Linked DNA regions of Homo sapiens: all the other regions are linked to region 1. Evidence: fine-mapped expression QTL. A gene starts in region 1. Each other region holds a variant in brackets. All regions are shown on one strand. Distances are between the middles of the regions. Region 1 holds the start of SNRNP200 (small nuclear ribonucleoprotein U5 subunit 200). Region 2 overlaps KANSL3 (KAT8 regulatory NSL complex subunit 3). Region 3 overlaps SNRNP200 (small nuclear ribonucleoprotein U5 subunit 200). Region 4 overlaps TMEM127 (transmembrane protein 127).

What was found.
Region 2: its variant is fine-mapped to the expression of SNRNP200 in monocytes (BLUEPRINT, PIP 0.95).
Region 3: its variant is fine-mapped to the expression of SNRNP200 in whole blood (TOPMed, PIP above 0.99). The same link has a PIP of 0.9 or more in blood mononuclear cells, lung, sun-exposed skin, tibial artery and tibial nerve.
Region 4: its variant is fine-mapped to the expression of SNRNP200 in thyroid (GTEx, PIP above 0.99).

Annotation. Positions count from the first base shown.
Region 1 is chr2:96,302,795-96,310,360 of GRCh38, reverse strand. It overlaps SNRNP200 (small nuclear ribonucleoprotein U5 subunit 200), which reads left to right and starts at 4,815. Exons shown (of 45, transcript NM_014014.5): 1 at 4,815-4,968; 2 at 5,493-5,656; 3 at 7,031-7,202. The coding sequence starts at 4,924. RefSeq lists enhancers at 3,106-3,734, 4,327-4,406, 4,656-4,950.
Region 2 is chr2:96,612,217-96,619,782 of GRCh38, reverse strand. KANSL3 (KAT8 regulatory NSL complex subunit 3) reads left to right here. Exons shown (of 21, transcript NM_001115016.3): 4 at 21-111; 5 at 239-424; 6 at 6,164-6,295; 7 at 6,849-6,965; 8 at 7,220-7,321; 9 at 7,430-7,501. Among named protein-coding and RNA genes, the nearest start is that of KANSL3, 22 kb to the left of the region's middle. The variant G/TG (reference allele first, on the strand shown) is at 4,618.
Region 3 is chr2:96,280,291-96,287,856 of GRCh38, reverse strand. SNRNP200 (small nuclear ribonucleoprotein U5 subunit 200) reads left to right here. Exons shown (of 45, transcript NM_014014.5): 26 at 300-418; 27 at 697-851; 28 at 980-1,169; 29 at 1,373-1,546; 30 at 2,517-2,677; 31 at 3,272-3,499; 32 at 3,853-4,044; 33 at 4,144-4,322; 34 at 4,505-4,656; 35 at 5,935-6,043. Among named protein-coding and RNA genes, the nearest start is that of CIAO1, 18 kb to the right of the region's middle. The variant G/A (reference allele first, on the strand shown) is at 3,240.
Region 4 is chr2:96,242,897-96,250,295 of GRCh38, reverse strand. It overlaps TMEM127 (transmembrane protein 127), which reads left to right. Exons shown (of 4, transcript NM_017849.4): 4 at 1-1,782. Among named protein-coding and RNA genes, the nearest start is that of TMEM127, 19 kb to the left of the region's middle. The variant CTTG/G (reference allele first, on the strand shown) is at 2,499.

The sequences.
Region 1 (7,566 bases):
GGACATTTCATATATGTGGAATCACATAATATGTGGTCTTTTGTGACTGGCTTCTTTCATTTAATATGGTTTCTAAAAACTTGTTTTTGTTTTTTGAGACAGGGTCTCCCTCTTTGCCCCAGGCTGGAGTGCAGTGGCGAGATCATAGCTCACCACAGCCTCAAGCTCTGGGGTTTGCAATCCTTCCACCTCAGCTTCCTGAGTAGCTGGGGCTACAGGTGTGCACTACTATGCCCAACTAATTAATTTTGTTTTTTTTTTGTAGAGACAGGGATCTCTTTATGTTGCCCAGGTTGGTCTCAAACTCTTGGCCTCAAGCAATCCTCCAGCCTCAGCCTCCCAAAGTGCTGGGATTACAGATGTGAGCAACTGCACCAGGCCTTAATTTAATATATATTTTTTGAGACAGAGTCTCACTCTGTCGCCCAGGCTTGAGTGCAGTGGCAGGATCCCGGCTCACTGCAACCTTTACCTCCCAGGTTCAAGTAATTCTCCTGCCTCAGCCTCCCAAGTAGTTGGGACTACAGGCGTGCACCACCACACCTGGCTAATTTTTGTATTTTAATAGAGACAGGGGGCTGGGCTTGGTGGCTCACGCCTGTGATCCCAGCACTTTGGAAGGCCGAGGCGGGTGGATCACCTGAGGTCAGGAGTTCAAGACCAGCCTGGCCAACATGGCGAAACCCCGTCTCTACTAAAAATACAAAAATTAGCTGGGCGTGGTGGCGCGCACCTACAATCCCAGCTAATGAGGAGACTGAGGCAGGAGAATCGCTTGAACCCAGGAGGTGGAGGTTGCAGTGAGGCAAGATTGTGCCACTGCACTCCAGCCTGGGCAACAGCAAGACTCCATCTCAAAAATAAAAAAATAAAAAATAGAGACAGGATTTCACCATGTTGGCCAGGCTGGTCTTGAACTCCTGACCTCAAGTGATCTGCCCATCTCAGCCTCCCAAAGGGTTGGGATTACAGGCATGAGCCACTGTCCCTGGCCTTAATATGTTTTTGAGATTCATTCATGTTGTGGCACACAGCAGTACTTCATTGCTTTTTGTGGTTGAATAATATATTGTATTGTATAGAAATAGCACATTCTGCTTATCCATCATCAGCTGATGAACATTTGGGTTGTTGCAATATTTTGGCTATTGTGAGTAGTGCTGCTATGGACATTTGTGTACAAATGTTTATGTAGACATGTTTTCAGTTCTGTTGGGTAGATTCCTAGGAGTAGAATCGCTGGGTCATAGGGTAACTCTATGTTTAACTTTCTTTTTTTTTTGAGGAGTCTCGCACTGTCACTCAGGCTGGAGTGTAATGGCACGATCTTGGCTCACCGCAACCTCTGCCTCCCAGGTTCAAGCAATTCTCCTGCTTCAGCCTCCCGAGTGGCCGGGATTACAGGCATGTGCCACCATGCCCAGCTAATTTTTATTTTTATTTATTTATTTAGTTTGAGATGGAGGTTCACTCTTTTTGCCCAGGCTGGAGTGCAATGGCATGCTCTCAGCTCACTGCAACCTCCGCCTCCTGGGTTTAAGTGATTCTCCTGCCTCAGCCTCCCGAGTGGCTAGGACTACAGGCTCACGCCACCACGCCCAGCTAATGTTTGTATTTTTAGTAGGGACAGGGTTTCATCATGTTGGCCAGGCTGGTCTCAAACTCCTGACCTCGTGATCCACCCGCCGCGGCCTCCCTAAGTGCTAGGGTTACAGGGGTGAACCACCACGCATGGCTGTTGAGCATTTTTTCATGTGCTTATTGGCCAGTGTATATTTTCTCTGGAGAAACGTCTGTTCAAATTCTTTGCCCAGACCAGGAAAGGTGGCTCAGCCTGTAATCCCAACACTTTGAGAGGCTGAGGTGGGTGGATCGCTTGACCCCAGGAGTTCGAGAGCAGCCTGGGCAACATGCCAAAACCCCATCTCTACTAACAATACAAAAAATTAGCTGGGTGTGGTGTGTGCCTGTAGTCCCAGCTACTTGGGAGGCTGAAGTAGAAGGATCACCTGAGCCTGAAGAGATTGAGGCTGCAGTAAGCCATGATCGTGCCACTGCACTCCAGCCTGAGCAACACAGTGAGATCCCCCATCTCAAAAAAAAAAAAAAAAAAGTAAAATAAATTTCTCTTTGCTTGTGGCTCCTTTAGGTCCTGGCTGACTGTCATTTTCCTGGGCCTCTCTTGCTTCCTGAAGACTTTTCTCTTCCCTTTTCTACATCCCAGTCTAACCCCAGCTCCTCTTTCCTTTCTCATGTGGGGCAGTGACTCCTTTGACTTGTCTTCACTAGACACCTTCCCCCATTTTCAACAAGTTGGCCCAGGAAGTTTCCCTGAGCCCCTTCCGCAGAGTGAGGAAGCACGGCTGTCATTTTTCTTTTCTATCTTTAATTTAAAAATTGTTTTTATTTTTTGAGGGAAGAGTCTTGCTATGTGGGTCAGCCTGGAGTGCAGTGGCACAATCCTAGCTCACTGCAGCCTTGAAGTCCTGGGCTCAAGCAATCCTCCTGCCTCAGCCTTCCAAGTTGTTGGGACTACAGGCACACACTACCAGGCCTGGCTACTTTTTAATTTTTTGTAGAAACAGGGCCTCACTATGTTACCCAAGCTGGTCTCAAACTCCTGGCCTCAAGCAATCTTCTTTCCTCAGCCTCCTAAAGTGTTGGGGTTATAGGCATGAGCCACCACACCCAGCCTGTTGTTTTCTTTTCAAAATCATAATTATTTTCTTCCTTATTTACATTTTAGTGTGACGATTGTTCCAGGGCTGCAGTCTCCTCTTGTGGAAAATAAGGGAACCAGACTACTCCATCTCTAAGGCTCCTACCAGGTCTAACATACTATGGAAACTTATAAGTCCATCTGAATGACTAAATGCAGGATTTACATTTGGTAGAGCCTGATTAGAGAGGAAAAGAAAAGATGGGGAAAGTTTCCTTTTTTTCTTGCTTCACAGGTTTGCCCACAGCCCAGCTGCATCTGTGAACATGAATGCTACTTCTACAGAAACAGAGTGGAATCTCCGAAATACCTTTGAGACCCTTTCGTGTCAGGTGGGTGGGCCACAGCCTGATCATGGAATAAAAGTCAGCCTTAAGGATTCAGATTTCAATAACTTTCAGTGAACCCCACCTTGAGTCAGGCACTTTGCTAGGTGCTTTTAAACACACTATCCCATTTAATCACAATGGGAGGAAGGTTTTATTGCCTCAATTTTTTTTTTTTTAAGACAAAGAGTCTCACTCTGTCATCCAGGCTGGAGTGCAGAGTTTGATCTCGGCTCACTGCAACCTCCACCTCCCAGGTTCAAGTGATTCTCCTGCCTCAGCCTCCTGAGTAGCTGGGATTACAGGCACCCACTACCACGCCTGGCTAATTTTTGTATTTTTAGTAGTGACAGGGTTTCACCATGTGGGCCAGGCTGGTCTCAAACTCCTGACCTCAAGTGATCCGCCTGCCTTGGCCTCCCAGAGTGCTGGGATTACAGGCGTGAGCCAGCGTGTCCAGCCAATTGCCTCAATTTTAAGGATGAGGAAAATGGTGCTCACCGAGAGGCCAGGTAGCTAGCTACTTCAAAGTCACACAGCCACTGAGGAGCAGAGCCATGAGGACTCGACTGTCCCTTGGGAAGACGAGTTATTAAAAAAAAAACAAACACCCACCAAAGCAGCAAACTCCATGCCTACAGGGGCTGGGCAAGTAAAAATAAGGAGATGGGCAGGCATGAGAAAACAGGAGCAGTGGGAAGGACTTGCCTATTCTCTGACCTTGGCAGCTGCTGACCAGCAGCAGGTCATGCCATGCAGCAGTGTGGGTGTCATGTGGCTGATTTTCTAGTATCTCAACTGATGGGGGAGAGCCAGAGTTTGCATGAAATTATCCCAATTTTTAAAGAAGGAGCCAACAGTGAGCCAAACACGATACCACTACAGAACAAATCTGGTCTAGGGGACTGCTATTGAGGATGAATTCCTTTGGCTTAACACCCATCCTCCTGTTCATTCATCTTCTCAAAAGCAAACATGCTCTAAGTGAGGAGGGAGGTCACCTTCAGCCATAAGGCGCCATTCTACTGGCGAGAAGTGGTGGGGAATGTGGGACAGAGAAGACTTTGTAGCTGGGGAAGAAATTAAGTCATAGTCACCAAGGATTTGGCCCTGCCTTCACCGGTTTCCCTGGGCGGCAGGGAGGGCCCTACCATAGAATGTTACCGACAAGTGGGAGCAAATGGGGGCCCCGGCCCTGTTCGTTCAGCTGGGTGAAAACGAGGGTCTTGGGGGCACAGGTTTAGGTGGGATTGGTGGGGGATAGTAGCTTTCTTTTTCAATTGTTGAACACAGAAGAGAAACCCAAAGCAAGGCGCCAATCATTAAAACACACAAACACAGACACACGCGCAAGTCACCTTGCTCGCTGGGTACTTTAGTTACCTCAAACGGAAATGGGGTTTTCGGCCCCTCTTTTCCTGCCTACCTCATGGGACTGTTGCCAAAGAGGAAGGAACCGGAAGGAAAGGTCTTGGGACAGGACAGGGGCTAAGCAGCCGTGCATTCGTTATGATGTGAGGGGTGCCGGGGGCTGGAGACTGAGGTCGGGGAGAGCACGGGCCCTGGGTCCTTAGTGCCAGCGGGCGGCCAGAACCAGAGTGCGGGGGTCTAGGGATTCGGGGACCCAGACGCACCAGGCCCACATATCCCGCTCAGAAGGGTGCGGAAAGCCGCGCGCACACGGCAGGGACACGCCCCAGACACGCCCCGCCCCGCACTTCTGGGGCGCGACCCGGAAGCGGAAGGGAACCCGTTTCTTTTCCTTCCCCAGTGCGTCTTTCCTGCGTCGTTCCGGCGCGGCGGGAGCAGAGATCTGCGGCCGTTTGCAGCTTGCGGTAGGGAGGCGTGGTGGTCTGAAGCCTCCGAGCAGCCGCGGCCATGGCGGATGTAACCGCCCGTAGTCTGCAATACGAGTACAAGGCGGTGCGTTTGGTCTTGGGGAAGGATTCCAGGCTCAGGAGTCCAATGGGGAGGGGGAGGCTGAAAAAGGGAGTTTCAGTCTGAAGGCCTACAGGAGAGCCACGAAAACGAAGGGGAAATGGAATCGGGGTGAAGGTGGGGGTTATACGATGACGTGAATAACCTACTGGGGTCTGGGGAGCGCTAAGATCTCTCTAGGAGGAGTTTCTCGAGTACCTTCAACGCTAAGCCCTCCCCCTTCCACACGTCACTCCCAACCCACTCACTACTTTTCACAGGTGTGGGTTATGATGGGCGCTGTTAGGAACAAGAATTGTTTAGCTGATTCGACAGCGCATAAGACTTATTCAGCTGTACGCTTCTGCACAGCGTTATACTATGCAATTCTTAAGGAAAATATATTTTTATTACGATTAGTGATGATAAGCAACTAGTTACTACGATTTTTTCCATCAGCTGGGGTAACTATGATAGTAGGAATTGGCCCTGCTCATGTCAAAGCTTCAATAATGTTTTGATCTTTTCAGAACTCGAATCTTGTGCTCCAAGCTGACCGTTCTCTCATTGACCGGACCCGCCGGGATGAACCCACAGGAGAGGTGCTGTCCCTTGTTGGGAAGCTGGAGGGCACCCGTATGGGAGACAAGGCTCAACGGACCAAACCGCAGATGCAGGAGGAAAGAAGAGCCAAGTGAGTGCCAAGGGGATACTATTTTTTCCTTCAGATCCAAAGTCTCTTCCCTTTAACATTCGAGCAGCATTTTTGCTGGAATGCTTGGTGTAAGATCAGTGGCATTAAAACAATTCAGTGAAGGTAAAAACAGACCAGGAGAGTTTAAAGATTTTTTGGCCTTAACAAGTGCATCTCAAGTGGAAAATAACTTGTTGGTACCTTTTTCTTACATGTGTGTTTCTGGTCCATAGACAGATCTTAATTTTCTTCAGGGTATTTTCAAGACCCTTGCTATTCCTATGTCCCAGTAATTCGTTTTCCTTTTTTCCCATTACTAACTTCCTACCCCTACTTTTTCCATTTACTCTTGTCCACGTTCTACCTATTTTGTTGTAACAAACTAATTTAAGCATCCATAGTATGAAAGACAGGTTTCTTTCTTAGTTTGCATTTTTTTCCTTTATTTTTTTTTTTTAAGATTTCTTGGGGATATGTTTCAAAAACTTACCTTTACCTCATCATTATCTTTTGATCCTGAATATCTTGGTGTCTTGCTCCCTTTCCTATGATGAAGTTTCCAAAATTCCTAGGCTTAGTTTGATTAAAGTAGTTATGTTTGAAATGAGTTAATACATTATCTCCACTTTGTGCTATATCTTCTTTTCCAGTTTTGTTATACTTTGTTGATAGTCAACGGCAGTAGATTCTGTTAGAGCTTGGTTCTCTAGCTAGAAAGGGAAAATGCATTGGAGAGGTGAAAAACTAGTCAAAATCCTATTATATAATAGTCTCATACAATGTATGAAGGGTTGTACTTTTTTTTTTTTTTTTTTTGAGACGGAATCTCACTCTGTCACCCAGGCTGGAGTGCAGTGGCGTGATCTCTCTCACGGCAACCTCCACCTCCCGGGTTCAAGCGATTCTCCTGCCTCAGCCTCCTGAGTAGCTGGGATTACAGGCGCTCGCCACTGTGCCCGGCTAATTTTTGTATATTTAGTAGATACAGGGTTTCTCCATGTTGGCCAGGTTGGTCTTGAACTCCTGACCTCAGGTGATCCGCCTGCCTTGGCCTCCCAAAATGTTGGGATTACAGGCGTGAACCACTGCACCTGGCCAAAGGGTTGTATTTTTTAAATGAGAAACATCTCATTGTAATGTTTAGTGCATCTAGTGAGAAGATGATAGGGAATTTTTCTTTTTGTCACTGTGTCCCATAAAGAAATACTCCTGCAAGTGATTAAGGCCAAACGGAATCATTTGCTGAGGCTCAGATACCTGTTTTCAGATATTAACTTCTTGCCATGAAGCTGAGGAGAGGAGGGTGGGCTTGATCCAGTCTTCCCTTGGGGACGAAAGGTTCTGCCATTCAATATCACATTGCATGTCCATTAGGCGAAGAAAGCGTGATGAGGACCGGCATGACATCAACAAGATGAAGGGTTATACTCTGCTGTCGGAGGGCATTGATGAGATGGTGGGCATCATCTACAAGCCCAAAACTAAAGAGACTCGGGAGACCTATGAGGTGCTACTCAGCTTCATCCAGGCTGCTCTTGGGGACCAGGTGAGTGTGATATTGTGAAATATATATTAGGTCTTTATTTCATTTTCTGGCATACAGCTTCTAAGATCCTTGGAATCTTCGAAGTGCTAAGTATCTTTTTGTATGCTGATGAGTTGACTGATGGCTGGCAGCACTTAGGTAGTTCAGAATGGAGGCTGGTCATTTAATCAATCATGCCTACATAATGAAGCCTCCATAAAAACCCCAAAAGGACTAGGTTTAGAGAGTTTGTGGATAGCTGCACACATGGAGGTTTCTGGAGGGTGGTGCGCCTGAGAGGGCCTGGTAGCGCCACACCCATTCCCACATGCCTGCCCTGTGTACCTCTTCCATCTGTTGTCTTTTGGTAGGCATCTTTTGTAAT
Region 2 (7,566 bases), 310 kb before region 1:
CCTCAGAGTTTCCCTTATAGGACTGGCTGGACAATGGCCCAGAACAAGCTATTCAACAAGATCCTCAAAGCCCTGCAGTCTGACCGGCTTGCCCGCTTGGCCAACGAAGGGGTAAGACACCAGCAATCCGCCCACAGTGGGCTCTTCGTAGTTCAGGCCTCACTGGCTGACTGACTTGTCCCCCTGCTTGTTAACCAGGTAGTCCTCATGTTTTATTACTTCCACTTACATCCTTCAGGCTTGTAATGAGCCAGTGCTGCGCCGTGTTGCTGTGGACAAGTGTGCAAGGAGAGTGCGGCAGGCTCTGGCAAGTGTGAGCTGGGATACCAAGCTGATCCAGTGGCTGCACACCACCCTTGTGGAGACCTTGAGTCTGCCCATGCTGGCAGCCTACCTGGATGCTTTGCAGACGCTGAAGGGGAAGGTAAGGCTGTGATTGGGGTCTGCCCTGTCCTAGGGATAGCCATCCTCCCCTGTGGGTTCAGGATGTGGGGTTAGGCAAAGTAATTATCTGGTCGGTCTGGAGTGCATGGCCAAAACTAATGGGTTTGGTACTAAAATTGGGAGACAGGGTATCATTTCACATTTGTGTCTGGTGTAAACGTTTTCAGCCCTGCTGGCTCCAGGATGAGGTATGGGGCCTGAAAACCAGAGTATACATTTAGCCTTCCTAGCCTTGCAGCTTGTGGTTTGAGTCATGGCTGAATTGAATTATCATGAAGGAGACGAAGGGTTTACCAGGGAAGAGTTTGTTGAGAAAGGTGACAGAAGCAGACCCTTGGTGCTCGGAGCACTGGGAGATTGCAGAGCAGGAACGTGCCGTGATGCCTTCAATTCTGCTCCCCAGGGCATGAGCCTTTAGTAGCAACACTTAGACTTTTATAATTCAGTACAAACATATCATTATAGTTCCCTGCTTTCTTACTTAGTATTGCACAAAGTTAAACTGTTTTTCTTGGTGATTCCAGTGATTGCATCAGGCTATCGTCAATGTGGTAGAATGCGGATGCTGGAGGCAGATTGCCTGGCTGATCTCAGCTTTGTTACTGATTAGCTGTGTAAGCTTGGACTGGTGTCTCATCTCTAAAATGTGGCTGATAATAATAGCTATCTAGGATTTTTATGAAAATTAAATTAGTTAATTCAGGTAGGGGGCTTAACACAAAATTGGGCACATAGTAAGCAGTGAGCCCACAGTAATTATTATTACTAATATTAACAGTTATTTAAGTAGTACCCTCATAGGTTCTTGAAATATTTGGGGTGTTTTGCTCCAATACAAAATGGCCTCACGGCCGGGCATAGTAGCTCATGCCTATTATCCTAGCACTTCGGGAGGCTGAGGCAGGAGGATCGCTTTAGCTCAGGAGTTTGAGACCAGCCTGAGCAACATAGCAAGACCTTGTCTCTACTAAAAATAAAATAATTAGCCAGGCATGGTGGCACACGTCTGTAGTCCCAGCTAGTTAGGAGGCTGGTGGGAGGAGGCTGTAGTGAGTTCAGTCCCACCACTGCACTCCAGCCTGGGTGACAGAGGGAGTCCCTGTCTCTAAGAAAGAGAGAGAGAGAGAAGAGAAAGAACCAAATCAATCCAAGTTGTCTGAGGCCTTTTTTTTTTTTCTTTGGAGACAGGATCTTCCTCTCTCACTCAGGCTGGAGTGCAGTGGCACTATCATTGCTTGCTATAACTTCGAACTCCTGGGCTCAAGCAATCCGTCTGCCTCAGCCTCCCAAGTACTGGGACTAGAGGTGTGTGCTACCACCACACCCAGCAAAGAAATTTTTTTTTTTTTTTTTTTTGAGACAAAGTCTCACTCTGTCGCCCAGGCTGGAATGCAGTGGCACGATCTCGGCTCACTGCAACTTCTGCCTCCTGGGTTGAAGCAATTCTGCCTCAGCCTCCTGAGTAGCTGAGACTACAGGCGTGTGCCACCCCGCCCAGCTAATTTTTTTTGTATTTTTAGTAGAGATAGGGTTTCACCATGTCTCGATCTCCTGACCTCGTGATCCGCCCGCCTCGGCCTCCCAAAGTGCTGGGATTACAGGCGTGAGCTGCCGTGCCCTGCCACACCCAGCTAAATTTTTAATTTTTTTGTAGAGACGGTCTTGCTATAGGCTCGTCTTGAATTCCTGGCCTCAAGCAGTCCTCCCATCTTGTCCTCCCAAATTGCTGGGATTACAGGCATAAGCATGATTCAGTTTTTGACACTTTTTTTTTTTTTTTTAATAGTTTTACTTTCTGCTTCACAGGAAGCTGGCTCATCTTGCTGCTGTAAGTTGCCTGGCCAACACGTTCCCTCAGCCACATCCCCAAAACTTGCAGACTCATTGTTTCTTATGTGTTTTTAAGTTAAAGGGTGCCAAGTTTGTTAGAAGACTGGTTTAGTGCTGAAATAAAACTCAGGACTAGATACATTAATGATATTCATGGTAGGAAATTTGACACTAGTTTTTTTGTTTAACTAATACTTATTTTGGGCCCTACGTGTGTCAGGTACTGGGGTGAGCAAAACAAAACTGGTCCCTTCTCTGGTGGAGTGTATTTTCTAGTGAAGAAAGAGACAAATGAAAAGGGAGTCCCAGACTTTCCCCTGTACTGCTCCCCTGTAGTAGAAACCCTGGACCCGGGAGGTGAGTGGTGGGCAGGTAGAGTGTGGGGCCCAGACTGGATCCTGGCAGACAGAGAGTGGTGGCCCAGAAGTATCGTAGGCATCTTCACATATGTTCTCCTCAGCATTCTACCTACGGTAAAAGTGTAACATTGGTGAATACACTGTAGGAGATGAGTGTTGGTAGTGGCCAGGGTCTCAGTTCTCTGGTGACCCTGCTTCACTCACTGTGGCTAGCATAATTTCCCTTTAAGGAGGAATTTGTACTGCTGCCCTATTTAAGTTACTGACTGGACATCTCCTGGGTGCATGTCGGATATTATGAGCATGGCAGACCACTGGGGGGACTCCATAGCATGCATAGTTGGGTGTTTTCCTCCCATGCTGCTGGGCCACGGTGTGGGTTGACTGGAATAGTGGAAGGCTCGCTGGTACACCAGTCAGCAAGGGCCTCAGACTCAAGGCAACATCCTCTCTGGGCTGTGCTCTCCGCAGTGGTTCCTCTGCCATCGGACTCTTATTTTCCCATGACTATATTTAGATTCACAACAAATACTTTGGTTGTTTCCCAAAGGATATAAATGATTATAGGATTGTTTTACTTTTAAAGTGCCTGCTGGATGTGAAAGCGCAGGTGGATGGGATCATGCTCTTCACCCAGCTACTTTCACTATTAGATCCATTATGATAAAGAGGGCAGAGAAGGTATAGACCTTAGCCTTTTAATTGGCTGTTGAGAGTGAATGCAATGCTGGAAGGGCCAGGGAAGCTTGGTCTTCCCAGCTCCAAGTGGAAAAGTCAGTATTGATTTTTTATCCCTTGTTGACAGGAAGCAAGTGTCAAGGCTTTTTGGTTTCAAAGCTATATACTACTGTTAGATAAAGCTTAACCCAGGGTCACATCCTTTGCCTCAAAGTGTTGAGTGGCTCACAGTTCTAGAGTGAGTTACAAAGAACATGAAGATCCTTTGCAGTTTGGTCTTATCCTTTGCGGTTTGGTCCTATCCTTCCTACTGGCTTTTTACATCCTCCTCCTTCCTTACTTGCATCCTTGACTTTTGTCCATCTGTGCCTGGAATAAGCTCTACACATTCTTGCCTCTTGCTGGTGTCTCTGATGGGAAGGCTTTTCTCTCATCTTCTGTTGGAATCCTGCCTGTTCCAAAGAGCCTGTCTCATTTCACATGCTGTATCTTTAGATGAAAATTGCCTCTTAACTTCTTCTCCATTGGGTGGTTTGAATCATAGCAGTTTGGGCTTCTGTTTCTTTCATGGCAGTTATCGGTCTTTCCCTATTCCTGTCCCCCACCATTATTTGTGTGTTTGTCTTCCTTACCTCTTGTAGATTAAATTCCTCTGCAGTACTAGCCTGGTACCTTGTAAAAGCAGTTGCACGAATATTTCTTTCCTGAGTTAAACTGAGAAAGTCTAATGGTTATAATTCTCTAATTTCTCATACAGAAATCCTTTTAGTGTCCCTGTTTTTAAATTAAGAGCAACTTATCTTCTGCTATTTTTGGAGTTTTACAACTTGCATCAAACCGTAGTACTTTTTATTCTCCAATTTTTCAAAACCTTTTTCTTTCTCTGAAAACTGCCTCTAATATTTAAACATTTTTCCTTTCCCCTAGGTCATTTTGACCTTTTGTGGGTAGCATGGAATTCGCAGATATTTCTTCTCAGTGTAAGCATCAACATGTCTGAAACCTATATTTGCACATCTGTAATGTCACATTTCTGGTAGATAGTAAAAAACAGACATGAGATAAAGTACACTGTATATAGTATAGCAGGATATATATTTTTGTACATAATAACAGATTTATTTAGTACACCACAGCTTGAAGGCAGTACTCTAGAAGAAAATGGAGATTTAAAAATATTATAAAATCAACTGATACTCATTGAGGAAATTTAGGGAACATAGAAATCTGTAAAGGAAAAAGTCACCCATAAACTCCATAGAGATCATTATTAACATTTTGTCTTTTTTTTTTTTTTTTTTTTTTT[G/TG]AGACAGTCTCCCTCTGTTTCCCAGGCTGGAGTGCGGTGGCACACTCTTGGCTCACTGCAACCTCTGCCTCCTGGGTTCAAGCGATTCTCGTGTCTCAGCTTCCTGAGTAGCTGGGACTACAGGTGTGCAGCATATTTTCTTTAAAATATGATTCTATTATATTCATTGTTTAGAAATCTGTTTTATCCCACTTAATGTATCTTTTTTTATTTTTTTAATTTTATTATTATACTTTAAGTTTTAGGGTACATGTGCACAACGTGCAGGTTTGTTACATATGTATACGTGTGCCATGTTGGTGTGCTGCACCCATTAACTCGTCATTTAGCATTAGGGGAGTAGAGATAATTTTTTTCTTTTTTTCTTTCTTTCTTTTTTTTTTTTTTCTTTTTTTTGAGAAGAGTCTCACTCTGTTGCCTAGGCTGGAGTGCAGTGTCATGACCTTGGCTCACCACAACCTCCACCTCCCGGGTTCAGGTGATTCTCGGACCTCAGCTTCCCAAGTAGCTGGGATTACTGGTGTGCGCCACCACACCTGGCTAATTTTTGTATTTTTAGTGGAGACAGGGTTTCACCATGTTGGCCAGGCTTATCTCGAACTCCTGACCTCAAGTGATCTGCCCACCTTGGCTTCTCAAAGTGCTGGGATTACAGGCATGAGTCGCTGAGCCCAGCTTTGAGTAGAGATAATCTTTATATTTTCTATTTTACCTGTAACATTTTAGCAAAATTATTTCTGTGTGTTATTATATATCCTTGTAAATATTTGAAAGCTGGGTGCAGTGGCTGATGCCTTTAATCCCAGCACTTGAGGAGGCTGAGGCGGGTGGATCATTTGAGGTCAGGAGTTCAAGACCATCCTGACCAATATGGTGAAACTCCATCTCTACTAGAAATACAAAAAATTAGCTGGGTATGGTGGTGCACGCCTGTAATCTCAGCTACTTGGGAGGCTGAGAAACAAGAAATCGCTTGAACCCGGGAGGCAGAGGTGGCAGTGAGCCAAGATCAGGCCACTGCACTCTAGCCTGGGCGACAGAGCGAGACTTTGTCTCAATAAATAAATAAATTCTTGTAAATATTCGAAAATAATCTTTAATATCCAATTAGGTAGATAGTTGACTAAACTACTCCCTTACATATGCACATATATATTAAATTGTTTTTACTTTATTATTATTCATAGTTAATTTGTCTCTGTGCATAATTGTCCCCATCCTTTTGTGTGTGTTTTTGTTTCTGATACGTTTTCTTTGGAAAGGTTCTCAGAAGTAGAAACATTTGGAAAAGGGATGGGAATACATTTAAGTCCCTTGCTGCATATCCAGACTGCTTTCCAAAGGATTGTACACATTCACTTTTCATGGTGGGAGCATACTTTTCACCCGCTTATTTATATATATTCTTGATCCTTAGGAGGTTTTCAGAGGCTTAGTTGAAGTCTGTCTATGGCTTATAGTGGGGCTCTGTTCTTCTGCTTGATTGCTGGTGGTGGAAGGTCTCCTGCTTTACACTGGAGTCATCTTTGCTCTTTCTTCTTTGTAGATCCCAACCTTGATTGACCGGATGCTTGTGTCATCCAACACAAAGACTGGGGCTGCAGGAGCTGAGGCCTTGTCTCTCCTACTGAAGAGGCCCTGGGACCCTGCTGTGGGTGTGCTTTCTCATAACAAACCAGTAAGTTGGATGGCTCAGGACTTAACAATGGTACATAAAAATTTTAGACTCAAGCCTTAGAACCTTGGCAGGAGGATAAATGGCTTCTTTAACTATTTATTATTATTATTATTTTTTGAGACAGAATCTTGCTCTGTTACCCAGGCTAGAGTGCAGTGGCACGATCTCAGCTTACTGCAACCTCCACCTCCTGGGTTCAGGCAATTCTCCTGCCTCAGACTCCTGAGGAGCTGAGATTACAGGCATGCACCACCATGCCCAGCTAATTTTCAGTAGTGACAGGATTTCACCATGTTGGCCAGGCTGGTCTCAAACTCCTAATCTCAGGTGATCCACTTGCCTTGGCCTCCCAAAGTGCTGGGATTGCAGGTGTGAGCCAGCATGACTGGCCAGCTTCTTTAACTATTATTAATAATTTATTTTACATAGTGCTTAACATAATTTCACAAGCAAAGGAGCATTGGTTGGGATGAGAAAGGTATTGGGATACTTGGAATTTCATGAAAGGACACTTCTCACTCACTGGTTTTTGGGTGGGATTCTTCCTCTTTAGAGCAAACTCCCTGGCTCTCCGCTGATTCTCATCGCCTCCTCTGGTCCCTCCAGCTCTGTGTTTCCCACTTCACGCCGCCACCGCTTCTGGCAATCTCAGCTGTCCTGCTTGGGCAAGGTATGTGTGGGGGCAAGAGGAACTCCTTCCTGGCAGGGAATATAGTCTTGGAGGATTGAGGAGAAGAATATGTGGGAGGAGGTCAAAATGGGTAACTTGAATGTGGAGCCTCCTCTAACCCTTCTTTCATGTGGAGCCTCCTCTAATCCTTCTTTCATGTGGAATTCCAAGGTTTTGGGTTTAGGTTAGGTTAAACAGAATTGAAAGATTTGAAACTTACCTCTGCTGGTGTGGGGGCTACTTCTTTCCTTCAGGTCATCCCTGTAGCCACCCATCTGCTGAACAATGGCAGTGGGGTAGGAGTTCTACAGTGTCTCGAGCATATGATTGGGGCAGTGAGAAGCAAAGTGCTGGAGGTGAGAATGCCCGTATTTCAGTACATTGTGGCATACCCAGCATTCTGGGGTTGTTCTGCACCTATCTTTGGCCTCCTGTCTTACTGTCTTCTTTCTCTTCCCATGAAGATTCACAGCCATTTCCCACACAAACCCATTATCTTGATTGGCTGGAACACAGGAGCTTTGGTGGCCTGTCATGTAAGTAATTTCTATCTTATTTGGAGGTTGTCCTGGGATGGAATACCACTAATCATAGCTACCAT
Region 3 (7,566 bases), 23 kb after region 1:
ACCCAGTGAGCTGGATGCTGGTCACCATGAGTGGGGGTCCCCAACCCAAGGGTCTGATGGGAAAGCCTCAGGGTGCATCTGATCTCCAGACCTGACATCGGAAGTATGACCTGAACCTTGGTGCACATTGAGAAGAGGGAAGGCCCTCTGTGGTGGAGGCCAGGGCTGGCACAGTGTCAGTGTCTGCCTTTAATGACTGTGTTTTGTGTAGTCACTGCTAAACTATTGGAAGCCATGAAGTGGGTGGTTTGTCACATCCCTGCAGAAGGGACCAACAGCTTTGCCTCCTTCCTGGATAGGTGGCAGTCCATGTGTCCTCTGCGCCAGTTCCGGAAACTCCCTGAGGAAGTAGTGAAGAAGATTGAGAAGAAGAATTTCCCCTTTGAGCGTCTGTACGACCTGAATCATAATGAGATTGGTGTGTGGGATGCTCTCGCCCTTGTCCTCACTGCCTGGGTGTCTCTCCCAGTTTGCCTATGTAGTCTTCCTGTTCCTAGGCCTGTGCATTAGTATCCTGTGTTCACTCCCCAAGTCCCACTGAAGTACAGGCTGGCCCTTGGTCTGGGGACTTGGAATCCTGGGCTCCACTGACCATAAAGGGAAGACCCTACCCCTTTCCCACAGTGGCCCTCAGGCCCAGTTTGCAGTATAGTAGGCAGGCTGGGCTGCAGCCTCAGTACTCTCATTTCCTTGTAGGGGAGCTTATCCGCATGCCAAAGATGGGGAAGACCATCCACAAATATGTCCATCTGTTTCCCAAGTTGGAGTTGTCAGTGCACCTGCAGCCTATCACACGCTCCACCCTGAAGGTGGAGCTGACCATCACGCCAGACTTCCAGTGGGATGAAAAGGTGAGGCTTTGCTGGGCAGAGGTGCTGGATTGGAGGTGCTCAGTCTACGTTGCTGGGCCGAGGAGATGGATTGGAGGCACTCAGTCTACGTTGACTCACATTCCTTTTACCCTTGCTCCTGTTGGCAGGTGCATGGTTCATCCGAGGCTTTTTGGATTCTGGTGGAGGATGTGGACAGCGAGGTGATTCTGCACCATGAGTATTTTCTCCTCAAGGCCAAGTACGCCCAGGACGAGCACCTCATTACATTCTTCGTGCCTGTCTTTGAACCGCTGCCCCCTCAGTACTTCATCCGAGTGGTGTCTGACCGCTGGCTCTGTGAGTGTCTCCTCTCCAGAGTCCCCAGGAACAGTCCCTCCAAGGACAGTAGAAGAATGTCTTGCACTTTGTCCCGGGCTTGCCCTTGCTGGGGACAGAGTGATACATATGCTGCCTAGGTTTCCAGTGTTCATGGAGGGGATCTAGAGGCCAGTGAGGGAAAGAGAGCAGTGCTTATATCCTTCCTGTTTCTTTTCTGGCAGCTTGTGAGACCCAGCTGCCTGTCTCCTTCCGGCACCTGATCTTGCCGGAGAAGTACCCCCCTCCAACCGAACTTTTGGACCTGCAGCCCTTGCCCGTGTCTGCTCTGAGAAACAGTGCCTTTGAGAGTCTTTACCAAGATAAATTTCCTTTCTTCAATCCCATCCAGACCCAGGGTAAGTGTTTCCATCCCTCCTCTGGAGGCTTTTGAAGTCACCGGGAGACAGATGTGCTCTGTGGCAGGCAGGGGAGTGGGGGTGCTCAGGCACTTGGGAGGTCTGGGAGCTCCTCAGTGTGACCGCTGGGACCCACCAGGACTTTTTCCTTTGTCAGAAGCCTTTGGTTGCTTTGCTGCTCTGCATGTGTCACTGTGGAGGGGCAATAGAGCAAGGCCTTACATGGCATGGTCATTTCTCGGGCCCAGGAGGCTTAGAGGCCTGCCCCTGGCGCTCAAGTATTGAACCAGAACCATGGGGTGGCACTGAAGCCTCCTCACCACATCATGATAAATAACGGGGACATTCACAGAGCAGGCACTGTTTCCTCAGTCCATGGCTGAGTACATCACCGGTGTTTTCTCTCTTATTCCTCCCATCAAGCCTAAAAGGAATCTCTATTGGAGATACTGCCATTAGTGTTCCTTTTATAGGTGAGGAACTGAGGCATAGAGGGTTCCCCAGTTGAACCAACTGATAAATAGTAGAACTTGGATTTTAATTCAGTCTTGATGCCAGGGATAAGGCTCTTACTTTCTACCTTAGGCTATTTCTAGGAAACGCAGGAGAGTGTTGAAGGGGCAGAGAAAGGGATCCAGTTCCTTTCTGTCCCGCATCCTAGTCCCTGAGAAGCAAAGAAGAATGTGTGGCTTCTTTTGCTTTGCTTTTGTTGTCATCCCACACATCTCCAGGGGACCTGGGCTCTTGATCTTGGCCTCTTCCCCTTTAACTGTTAAGTGGGAGCAGGTAAGGGGGTACAGTAGGGCTGGCCTGGAGTTAGAGGCTTGGATGCCTTAGCTCCTCTGTCTGCACTCCAGAACTGCCTGACTTCATTTCGTATGTTGTCCTTTGTTTTGACAATTGATCCATGTCCCAGTCCGTCTCTTCTTCCTTCTTGATACTTACACTGCTTCTTTCTGTTGGTTTCCAGTGTTTAACACTGTATACAACAGTGACGACAACGTGTTTGTGGGGGCCCCCACGGGCAGCGGGAAGACTATTTGTGCAGAGTTTGCCATCCTGCGAATGCTGCTGCAGAGCTCGGAGGGGCGCTGTGTGTACATCACCCCCATGGAGGCCCTGGCAGAGCAGGTATGACGTGGCGCTGTGTCATGTGAATTTCCCAAGAAGCATTTCATCTGTGATTCCGTATGAAGGCTTTCTAAGCCCTGAAATTTGCAGGGTCATTTCCTCAGTTTGTGTATTAAAGAAAAGCTGCCCCAGCCAAGCGTGGTGGCTCACGCCTGTAATCCCAGCACTTTGGGAGGCCGAGGCGGGCAGATCTCCGGAGATCAGGAGTTCGAGACCAGCCTGGCCAACATGGTGAAACCCTGTCTCTACTAAAAATACAGAAATTAGCTGGGCGTGGTGGTGTGCGCCTGTAATCCCAGCTACTTGGAAGGCTGAGGCAGGAGAATCGCTTGAACCCGGGAGGCGGAGGTTGCAGTGAGCCAAGTTCGCACCACTGCACTCCAGCCTGGGCAACAAGAGCGAGACTTCATCTCAAAAGAAAAAAAAAAAAGAAAAAGCTGCCCCATCGCATCGCATAGAGGCTGCTATGGGATTAGAACGTAGCTTGAGATCTGCAGGTCAACAGGTCTGTTTGGCATCTCAGGTTTTCCTCACATAAGTGAAAGATGCCTGGTATGGCCTA[G/A]TGTTGTTCTGCCTCCCTCCTCTGCCCGCCAGGTATACATGGACTGGTACGAGAAGTTCCAGGACAGGCTCAACAAGAAGGTGGTACTCCTGACAGGCGAGACCAGCACAGACCTGAAGCTGCTGGGCAAAGGGAACATTATCATCAGCACCCCTGAGAAGTGGGACATACTTTCCCGGCGATGGAAGCAGCGCAAGAACGTGCAGAACATCAACCTCTTCGTGGTGGATGAGGTCCACCTTATCGGGGGCGAGAATGGGGTATGGCGTGACCTTGCAGCACAGATGAGGGACTGGGACTGACCAAGTGGCCTTGGCATTGGACCTAATGTTTGGGTCTGAGGACGGAGGCTCGGGGCTTCTCCCCAGAGGATTCTACCTGCTGCCCTATTCCAAAGGGACAATGTTAACTTTTTTGGTAGTACTTTAGGAAAACAGTATTGTTTAGTGGAGGTTGGCTGCCGTGGAGGAGGTAGAACCAAACACATGAGAGCTCCTAGTTAGAAGGAAGAATGAGGTCATTTTGAGGCTGTTGGGCTGTTCACAAAGGGGACCTCCAGGCAGAGGATGGGAGCCTTGGCCTGCAGTGACCCTCCCTCCCTCCCTCTTTCCAGCCTGTCTTAGAAGTGATCTGCTCCCGAATGCGCTACATCTCCTCCCAGATTGAGCGGCCCATTCGCATTGTGGCACTCAGCTCTTCGCTCTCCAATGCCAAGGATGTGGCCCACTGGCTGGGCTGCAGTGCCACCTCCACCTTCAACTTCCATCCCAATGTGCGTCCCGTCCCCTTGGAGCTGCACATCCAGGTAGGACCCACTCTCCTCATCCGTCTGTGGGGTGTCACATAGATCCTGAGTGACCCAGGTCTGATAACCTTGGTGTCTTTTCTTCTCCCCGGTCGCCAGGGCTTCAACATCAGCCATACACAAACCCGCCTGCTCTCCATGGCCAAGCCTGTGTACCATGCTATCACCAAGCACTCGCCCAAGAAGCCTGTCATTGTCTTTGTGCCGTCTCGCAAGCAGACCCGCCTCACTGCCATTGACATCCTCACCACCTGTGCAGCAGACATCCAACGGCAGAGGTAGGTGGGGCCTGGCGTCTGGGGGTTGGGGTTAGGTTAAGTGAGGCTGGCCTACTCCAAGGGTGTCCTCTTTATGAGGGTGGGGTTAGCCCATGTTGCTTGGGGCCAGGTTCTGCACAGCTGGCAAAGTGTCTGCCAGGAATTGAACTACTCTGAGCTGAGCCAGTGCCTGTACCGCACAGGTTCTTGCACTGCACCGAGAAGGATCTGATTCCGTACCTGGAGAAGCTAAGTGACAGCACGCTCAAGGAAACGCTGCTAAATGGGGTGGGCTACCTGCATGAGGGGCTCAGCCCCATGGAGCGACGCCTGGTGGAGCAGCTCTTCAGCTCAGGTAAGTCAGGCCACGGAAGGGGAGCATAGCAAGGGTATCACCAAGTGGTGGTGTTAAACTTGAGGGGTGCGGGTGGCAGTGTTTTCTCTACAGCATACCAGAGATTTTCAAAATACTGTTTAGGACTCTTGGCTGTTAACTCATTTGATCCTCCCAAGAACCTCGTGAGGCAGGTGAGACAAACACTATCCCTACTTGCCAGGTGAGAAAACAGGCAGACACATCAGGTTGTGCTATTTCAGAACCTGGTTTTCTAGAGTCCAGGACCTTTGGCCACCAGACCGCTGATTCTCCGTGGATACCAGACTCCCCAAGTGTATTAGTCCGTTCTTGTATTGCTATAAAGAAATACCTGATACTGGGTCATTTATAAAGAAAGGAGGTTTAATTGACTCAGTTCTGCAGGCTGTACATGAAACATGGTGTTATCTGCTTCTGGGAAGGCCTCAGGGAAGGCAAAGGGGAAGCAGGCATCTTATATGGCAGGAGTCAGGACCGAGAGAGTGAGTGGGGAGGTGCTACACACTTTTGAACAACCAGATCTCGTGAGAACTCATTCACTAGACAGTACCAAGGGTGGGTGGTGCTAAACCATTCATGAGAACTCTGCCTCCATTAGCCAGTCATCTCCCACCAGGCCCTTCCTCCAACACTGGAGACTACAGGTCGACGAGATTTGGTGGAGACACAGATCCAAACCGTCTCACCAAGATAGTTAGACTTTAGAGATTAGCACAGAGGAGAGCTCTGATTCTCCCTTGAGCTCACTCTTGCTGGCCACTGTCTCTTGTTGCCCTGTGGCATTTTGTGCAAAGATTTACGTTTTAATACTGTTTATTGGAGCCTCATTGGAGATTCTTCTGCCAGAATCACTTCCTGTCACTCTTTGGCCCTTGAATCTGCCTGTTTGGGGCATGCTTAGAGTGATCTCTGTTTTGCTGGCATGGCTGAGCCAGCCCGTGGCTGCATGAGTGTTAGCACTTTCTGGTCAGAGGAGCAGTCCATCAGCTGTAGTTTTGCCTTGGTGTTCCTGGGCTTTGGGTTCTGTTCTATGATGACTTGTTTTCTCCTGGATAGTCCCAGAGCAAGGCACCAGCAGCGTGGAGCTACCTCATAGCAATGTGTTAGCTCTCATTCATGTTAGACCTTGTTCCTAGCCAGCCTTGCTGTGAGTTCTGAAACATAGCACAGGGTAAGCCACGGCCTGCCCATGAGGCAGTGAGCCTACTTCACCCGGAGACCCCTGCCCTCAGCCTTCCTCTCCCCTCTACTGCTCAGGGGCTATCCAGGTGGTGGTGGCTTCTCGGAGTCTCTGCTGGGGCATGAACGTGGCTGCCCACCTGGTAATCATCATGGATACCCAGTACTACAATGGCAAGATCCACGCGTGAGTACAACTGGTGCTCTGTGTTAGCACAGACCTCCTTCCTAAAATGAATGTGAATCTGCAGATACACAGAAAGTAAGCTAGGATGAAGAAAAGGTGTTAGGGAAGTTAACAGCTGAGATGCCACCAGAGCCAAGTGTTTGAGAGTTTTGTGTCTCAATACCTAGGCTCACATTTGCTTTTTAGTCATTGTGCTTCCTTATTCAGCAGCTGGGAGAGGTAGGAAATTAGAGCCAGGAGGAATGTTTGACGTTACGTCATTAATCTCAGACATCTTGTAGATTAGGAAAAGTGACTTGGTCGAGGTCATACACCTATATAGTGACAAGTAAGAAGCTAGAGGAGTGCCGAGCGCAGTGGCTCATGCCTGTAATCCCAGCACTTTGGGAGGCTGAGGCGGGCGGATCACTTGAGGTCAGGAGTTCAAGACCAGTGTGGCTAACATAGTGAAACCCCCGTCTCTACTAAAAATAACAAAAATTAGCTGAGTGTGGTGGCAGGCGCCTGTAATCCCAGCTACTTGGGAAGCTGAGGCAGGAGAATCAGTTAAACCTGGGAGGCAGAGGCTACAGTGAGCTGAGATCCCACCATTGCACTCTAGCCTGGGCAACAGAGTGAGACTCCAACTCAAAAAAAAAAAAAAAAAAAAAGCCTGGGTGTGGTGGCTCACACCTGTAATCCCAGCACTTTGGGAGGGCAAGGTGGGCAGATCACCTGATGTCAGGAGTTCAAGACCAGCCTGGCCAACATGACAAAACCCCGTCTCTACAAAAATTAGCCAGGTTTGATGGCAGGTGCCTGTTATTCAAGCCACTCACCTGTAATTCAAGCCACTTGGGAGGCTGAGGTTGGAGAATCACTTGAACCCAGGAGGCAGAGGTTGCAGTGAGCCAAGATCGCGCCATTGCACTCCAGTCTGGGCAACAGAGTGGTACCCCGTCTCAAAAAAAAAAAAAAAAAAAAAAGGGCCAGGTGTGGTGGCTCATGCCTGTAATCCCAGCACTTTGGGAGGCCAAGGCGGGTGGATCACAAGGTCAGGAGTTCGAGACCAGTCTGGCCAATGTGGTGAAACCCTGTTTCTACTAAATATACAAAAATTAGCCTGGTGTGGTGGCACGCGCCTGTAATCCCAGCTACCTGGGAGGCTGAGGCAGGAGAATCGCTGGAACCCAGGAGGCGGAGGTTGCAGTGAGCCGAGATAGCACCACTGCACTCCAGCCTGAGCAACAGAGCGAGACTCCATCTCAAAAAAAAAGAAGTTAGAAGAGTCAGTCATTCTCATAAAAAAGCCTGCATAATTTGTTGTTGTTTTTTTTTTAAGACAATCTTGTTCTGTCGTTTAGGCTGGAATGCGGTGGTATGATCTCAGCCCACTACAGCCTCTGCCTGCCAGGCTCAAGCAATCATCCTGCCTCAGTCTCCCAAGTAGCTGGGACTACCAGCATGTGCCACCACTCCCAGCTAATTTTTCCTTTTTTTTGTATAGATGGGTTTTCACCATGTTGCCCAGGCTGGTCTTGAAT
Region 4 (7,399 bases), 60 kb after region 1:
CTGCTGAGAGAATGGCAAGAGCAAAAGCACACTGGTGGCCAGGAGGTGGTAAGAGCCGAGGTTAGAAAGGTGAGGGGTGCTCATTTAAGGCACTAACAGCAGAAGGAGCCCAGGAAGGATTTTCAGAAGGGAAGGGAGGGATGCAACCTTATTTTAATGACTGGTGACAGTAGGAAGGGTTCTGCCTGGCCTTAAGTGAGGGTGTTGAAAGTGGGAGACAGGACCTGCCAAAGGGGAAGAGGGCGGTCACAGTCAATCCCAGGGCCCAGTGTCTCAGCCAGGTGCTGGAGTTGGGAATGCGGGAGCCCCAGTCTCTGCCCACCTGTCACGTGGCAGCTGGAAGGTGGCATCAACTGCACAGGCGAAGAGGGGCCCGCACACGAGAAGCCATGGGATGTGAAGGGCCGCAAGGAGAGGACCCTGGGACACAGGAAGAGGTGGTGCATCTGGGGCAGGGCGGCTTTCCCAAGATGACTAGAGAATCTTCAGCTGGCATCTTGCCTGAAATATCCACGCTCTCAGCCACTACACTAATGGAACACAGATGCTATGGGGAGACAGAAGGGAACTGACAAACTTCATGCCCCTGTTTTCAAATAGCCTGCAATCTTACCTCTTCCTCTGCATTTTTTGGGGGGAGTGACATTTTAATGGGAGGCAGGAGGTTTGTGGAGAAGAGAAAATGTTTTTTTTGTGGGGGTGGGTAGAGACAGTCTCACCATGTTGCCCAGGCTGGTCTCAAACTACTGGCTTCAGGCAATCCTTCTGCCTCCCTTCCCAAAGGGTTGGGATTACAGGCTTGAGCCACTGCACCAAGCCTGAAAATGTCGTTTTGAATGAGCCCACCTGAAACGAAGACGCTTCATTAGGGTTACTGGTTTGAGAATTAAGATCAGTTCTGGCCGGGTGCGGTGGCTCACGCCTATTATCCCAGCACTTTGGGAGGCCGAGGTGGGTGGATCACAAGGTCAGGAGATCGAGACCATTCTGGCCAACATGGTGAAACCCCGTCTCTACTAAAAATACAAAAATTAACCAGGCATGGTGGCAGGTGCCTGTAGTCCCAGCTACTCGGGAGGCTGAGGCAGGAGAATCACTTGAACCCGGGAGGCAGAGGTTGCAGTGAGCCGAGATCATGCCACTGGACTCCAGCCTGACAGAGTGAGACTCCATCTCAAACACACACACACACACACACACACACCACACACACACACACAGGTTCCTCACCATAAGCTTTGGGGAAAATTCTTGGCTTTTTTGCTGGGGGAGAGAGCAGTGCCCAGGGAAGATTGGCTGATCTCAGAGCTGGAGGGTTTATGCGGGACTGGCCAGCCCCTTCAGCTGAGTGGGACAGCAACACAGTGGGTGGTAAGGGGCTTCATAAGATGTACAAGATGAGGGAGAGGCCCCTCCAGCCAACCCTGTGTCTAAAGAGTCAGGTAACGAAGAACTTTCCAGAGACAGCTGTGAGTCCGTCTGGCTTAAGGGGTTGTACAGGTGTCTGAGAATGGGGCCTGAAGGTGCAGGGCCTGCAGGCTGCCCTGTTTGGAAGGTTCCTGTCCTTCTGTCTTGGTAGAAAATGGCAGCTAGCCTTGTAAAGGGCCTCCTTGTGTAGCGAGATAGACCATGTAGCCCCAGATGCCCCCATGGCTTCACTTCCCTCTTGGGGGTCTCTCAGTATATGTCTAGTGCCACCACTATTGGTGGAGAGTTTCCTTCTGGAATAACCTTGGGGTGGTGGATGGGTTTTATTTTAATAAAAGAAGAATGTCTCATTCATTTTTTCTTATTTATTTTTTGAGACGGAGTCTCACTTTGTTGCTCAGGCTGGAGTGCAGTGGCAAGATCTCGGCTCACTGCAACCTCCACCTCCCCGATTCAAACAATTCTCCAACCTCAGCCTCCCAAGTAGTTAGGATTACAGGCATGCACCACCATGCCTAGCTAATTTTTATATTTTTAGTAGAGATGGGGTTTTGCCATGTTGGCCAGGCTGGTCTCAAACTCCTGACCTCAGGTGATCCGCCCGTCTTGGCCTCCCAAAGTGCTGGGGTTACAGGGGTGAGCCACTGCGCCCTGCCCCGTTATTGATTCTTTCCATCTGTTTGCTTCCTCATATTCTAACGGGGTATGGGAAATTTGCTTGCATGTACACACATGCAATTTCTTTCCTTTTTTTCTCTTTTTCTTTCTCTTTCTCTTTCTTTCCTTTCTTTCCCTCCCTTCCTTCCTTTTCTTTTCTTTTTTCTTTCTTTTCTTTGACAGGATCTTGCTCTGTCTGGAGGCTGGAGTGTAGTGCTGCAATCATGGCTCACTGCAGCCTCAACCTCCCAGGCTCAAGTGATCCTCCCACCTTAGCCACCTGAGTGGCTGGGACTGCAGGTGTGAGCCACTACCTCTGGCTAATTTATTTTTTGCAGAGACAGAGCCTTGCCATGTTGCCCAGGCTGGTACACACCCAATTTCTATTATGTGTACAGGCCTGTGTCTTTCTT[CTTG/G]TTTACCTTATCAGTCCATTAGGCCAGGAGTCGTGTTGTTGTTTTTATTTTTTTTTAAGGTGGAGTCTCACTCTGTTGCGAGTGGACAAGAGTGCGCTCTGGAGTGCTGGAGTGCAGTGGTGCGATCTTGGCTCACTGCAATCTCCACCTCTGGGTTCAAGCAATTCCCCTGCCTCAGCCTCCTGAGTAGCTGGAATTACAGGCGCACACCACCATGCCTGGCTAATTTTTGTATTTTTTAGTAGAGAATGGGGTTTCACCATGTTTGCCAAGCTGGTCTTGAACTCCTGACCTCAGGTGATCCGCCTGCCTTGGCCTCCCAAAAAGCTGGGATTACAGGCATGAGCCACCACACCCGGCTGGGTCACGCTTTTTAATGTGACATTCATTCAGCAAATACACTGAACACAAGTGCCTTGTGGAGGATGCAGAAATTCTAACACATATGATCCTTGCCCTCTAAGGCCTTCCAATCCAGCCACCAGGAAAGAGGAAACCTGATGACACCGAAACGTGATAGCCAAGGAACACTTCCTAAAGAAGAGACTTGATCTGGGCCTTGGAGAAGGGGCAGGCCTTCATGAGAGCATGGTGTAGGCAGTGGTGTGAAAGCAGGAAAGGAAGGGCGTGGCTTTGGGGAACACTGAGTTGATGTGAGCAGCTCCTTCCCACTGGAGGTGCAGGGCAAGCAATTAGCTCATGGACCTAGCCCAGGAGGGCCTGGAACATCAAGGTTGTCAGAATGCTCACAGCTGCAAGACCCAGAACTGAAAATTTCTTAACTAAATGGAATTTATTGTTTTCCACAATTGAAAAGTTCAGCGTAGTCGGGGGGACTGGGCTGGGTCCAGGGACTCAAACAATGACACAAAGACACAGTTTCTCTCCACCTCTTTGCTTTGTGTGTCTGCTCAGGCCATCTCTCCCCAAAGGTGGTGAAGATGGCCACCAGCAGACTGGGGCTCACCCTAGACTCCTTTTTAAGGTAACAGGATGACTCTCTTTTGCCCAACTTAGATCATGCCCCTTACCCTGAACCCTGGCAAAGAACGTGGAGCTTCCTCCTGTGGTCCAGGTAGAGGATGGTTACATGTGGGGTCTGGGATTCAGAGGTGGCACCGCTGGCAGTGGTTGGGACATGTGAGCACAAGGGTGAGGCCTACACCACTCTGAGGCCTTGGCTGCCCCTTCTCTCTCCCCCAGCCCTCGCCTTTCCATGATGGTAAGACATGAGGCCACTCACCAGCTCTGCCTTCTTGAAGAAAATCAGTGTCCTATCTTTGAACAGAGCTGGGCCTTGAAGTCAGGCTCACCCACTCTCAAACCGTGGGGGAAACAGAGCCTTGGTTACACCAGCTCTGTCTCAGGGATTGTTTTTTCTGCTTCTCTCCTACCCTTGCCCGTTTCTTCCTGCTCCTTTCCAGCACCCTCCCAGCTCCTCACTTTCCTGACTTTTGTTTTCTTTTCCAAGCAGCTTGAGCAGTGCTTGATGCTCCTGGGTCACAGCGTGCACACATCCTGGCTGTTCTGGGTAACCGCACACCCAACCCCAGTCCCATCCCCATATCTCTATCCTGAAATCAACCCAAAGGGTGGGGAGGGAGCAGGCAACAGCAGACAACAGAAGGCGGGGGTACTGAGAGCATGTGCTGCTATTCAGGTACCCTTTGCAGTAATTCCCCAGAAGCACTAACATTTCTGCTGATCTTGGAATGATGCTGTATTACTCAGGGTTCTCCAGAGAAGCAGAACAATAAGATGTGGAGATATATGTATATATACAGAAAGACATTATAAGGAATTGGCTCATACAAATGTAGAGGCTGACAAGTCCCAAGTTCTGCAGGGTGAGTCAGCAAGCCGAGACCCAGGAGAGCCGAGGTTGTAGTTCTAGTCTGAAGGCCAGCAGGCTGAAGATCCAGGAAGAGCTGATGTTTCAGTTCAAGTCCAAAAACAGGAAGAAAGCTGATGTCACCACTTGAAAGTTGGTCATGCAGGAGGGGCGCCCTCCAACTCAGCCTTTTGTTCTATTTGGGCCCTCAGCTGATGGATGAGGATCCCCTGCGTTAGGGAGGCAGCCTGCTTTACTTGCTCCACCAACATAAATGCCAGTCCTACCCCACGCCCTCACAGATGGACCCAGAGTAATGTTCAAGCTGATATCTGGGCACCCCATGGTCCAGTCCAACTGACACATAAAATTAATCATCACAGATGCCTTCTTCAGCACATGCTCGATATCTAACAAATATCTCTACGGTGAGATTTTCCCCCCAACCTTGGGCCCACTTAAGAAAGATGTTGAACTGGGCGCGAGGGCTCACGCCTGTAATTCCAGCACTTTGGGAAGCTGAGGTGGGTGGATCACTTGAGGTCAGGAGTTTGAGACCAGCCTGGCCAACAAGGTGAAACCCCGTCTCCATTAAAAATACAAAAATTAGCCGGGCGTGGTGGTGGGCGCCTGTAATCCCAGCTACTTGAGAGGCTGAGGCAGGAGAATTACTTGAACCTGGGAGGCAGAGGTTGCAGTGAGCCAAGATCATGCCACTGCACTCCAGTCTAGGTGACGGAGCAAGCCTCCGTCTCCAAAAAAAAAAAAAAAAAAAAAAAAAAAAGAAAGATATTGAGAAATTGGAGAGGGTCCAGGCAAGCATTCTGAGTGGATGAAAGGTTAAAAGTTCTAGAGAAAAGGATGTAATAGCAATCTTAAATGTGTGAGGAGATAATTATTTATTTGCTCAAATGTGTGACTTAAAAAGGCACGCCTTCTCTATAGGACTGTTTCCTTATATGTAAATGAGGGGCTGAACTGGGTGACTTTACAGTCCTGCCAGCCATAAAGATCCATGACTTCCTGAGAGGGGGCTGCCACGCTCTGTATCCACTGTGGGAGATGAAGAAGGACTGAGGAACTGAGCAGTTTAGCTGTAGCCTGTAGTACCAGCTACACAGGAGGCTGAGGCAGGAGGACCACTGGAACCCAAGAGTCTTGAGGCTGCAGTGCACTATGATCATACCTATGAATAGCCACTGCACTCCAGCCTGGGCAGCACCACCAGACCGCATCTTTCTTTCCTTTCTTTTTTTTCTTCTTTTGATGGAGTTTCGCTCGTCACCCAGGCTGGAGTGCAATGGGGTGATCTTTGCTCACTGCAACCTCCATCTCCCAGGTTCAAGTGATTCTCCTGCCTCAGCCTCCCAAGTAGCTGGGATTACAGGCATGTGCCACCATGCCCACCTAATTTTTGTATTATTAGTAGAGACAGGATTTCTCCATGTTGGCCAGGCTGGTCTCAAACTCCCAACCTCAGGTGATCTGCCCACTTCGGCCTCCCAAAGTGCTGGGATTACAGGTGTGAGCCACTGCTCCTGGCCTCTATTTATTTACTTACGTGAGTTTTTTTTTTTCCAATAGGTTTTTGGGGAACAGGTGGTGTTTGGTTATAGGAATAGGTCGTTTAGTGGTGATTTCTGAGATTTTGGTGCACCTACCACCTATGCAGTGCACACTGTACCCAATGTGTAGTCTTTTATCCTTCACCCCCTTCCCACCCTTTACCCTGAGTCCCTAAAGTCCATTGTACTCATCTCTATTAAAAAAAAAAGAAAAAAAGGCCAGGTGCAGTGGGCAGATCACTTGAGGTCAGGAGTTCACGATCAGCCTGGCCAAAATGCTGAAACCCCATCTCTACTTAAAAAAAAAAAATTAGCCAGGCATGGTGGTGTCTCGGCTGTAGTCTCAGCTACTCAGCAGGCTGAGGCAGGAGGATCACTGGAACCCAGGAGGCAGAAGTGGCAGTGAGCCAAAATTGAGCCACTGCCCTCCAGGCTGGGTGACAGAGCGAGACTCCATCTCAAAACAAAAACAAAAACAAAACAAAACGAACAACAACAGCAGCAAAAAAAGGCCAGGTTCAGTGGCTCACACCTGTAATCCCAGCACTTTCGGAGGCCGAGGTGGGCAGATCACTTGAGGTCAGGAGTTCGAGACCAGCCTAGCCGACATGGTGAAACTCCGGCTCTACTAAAAATACAAAAATTAGCTGGGTGTGGTGGCTTGCTCCTGTAGTACCAGCTACTCGGGAAGTTGAGGCAGGAGAATCACTTGAACCTGGGAGGCAGAGGTTGCAGTGAGCCAAGATTGCACCACTGCACTCCAGCCTGGGGGACCAGCCAGACCTTGTCTAAAAAAAAAAAAAAGGAAAGAAATAAATTCTTTTCCCATCTTTCTTTCTTTATTCTTATTTTTTGAGACAGCGTCTTCATCTGTTGCCCAAGGTAGAGTGCAGTGGCACAATCGCAGCTCATTGCAGCCTCTATCTCCTTAGGTTTAAGCAATCCTCACACTTCAGCCTCCAGGTTGCTGGGACTACAGGTGTGCAACACCACACCTGACTGATTTTTTTTTTTTCTTTTCTGTATTTTGTAGAGATGTGGTTTTGCCATGTTGCCCAGGCTGCTCTCAAACTCCTGGGCTCAAGCAATCTACACACCTCAACTTCCCAAAGTGCTGGGATTACCACCACACTTGGCCCTTTTCTCATTTCTAAAGTGGGTTGTCTTTTATTGTTGAGTTTTAAGAGCTTTTGTTTGTTTTTGCCATCCTGTGCCACTCTGTTGCACAGGATGGAGTGCCGTGGAGCCATCTGGGCTCACTGAAACCTCCAACTCCTGGGTTCAAGTGGTTCTTCTGCCTCAGTCTTGAGTGAGCCACTACGCCCGCCTAATTTTTGTATTTTTAGAGAGATAGAGTTTCACCGTGTTGGCCAGGCTGGTCTCAAACTCCTGACCTCAGGTGATCCGCCTGCCTCGGCCTCCCAAAGAGCTGGGATTATAGGCATGAGCCACCATGCCCGGCTGAGTTTTAAGAGTTTTTATATATTCTAGATACCAGCCCC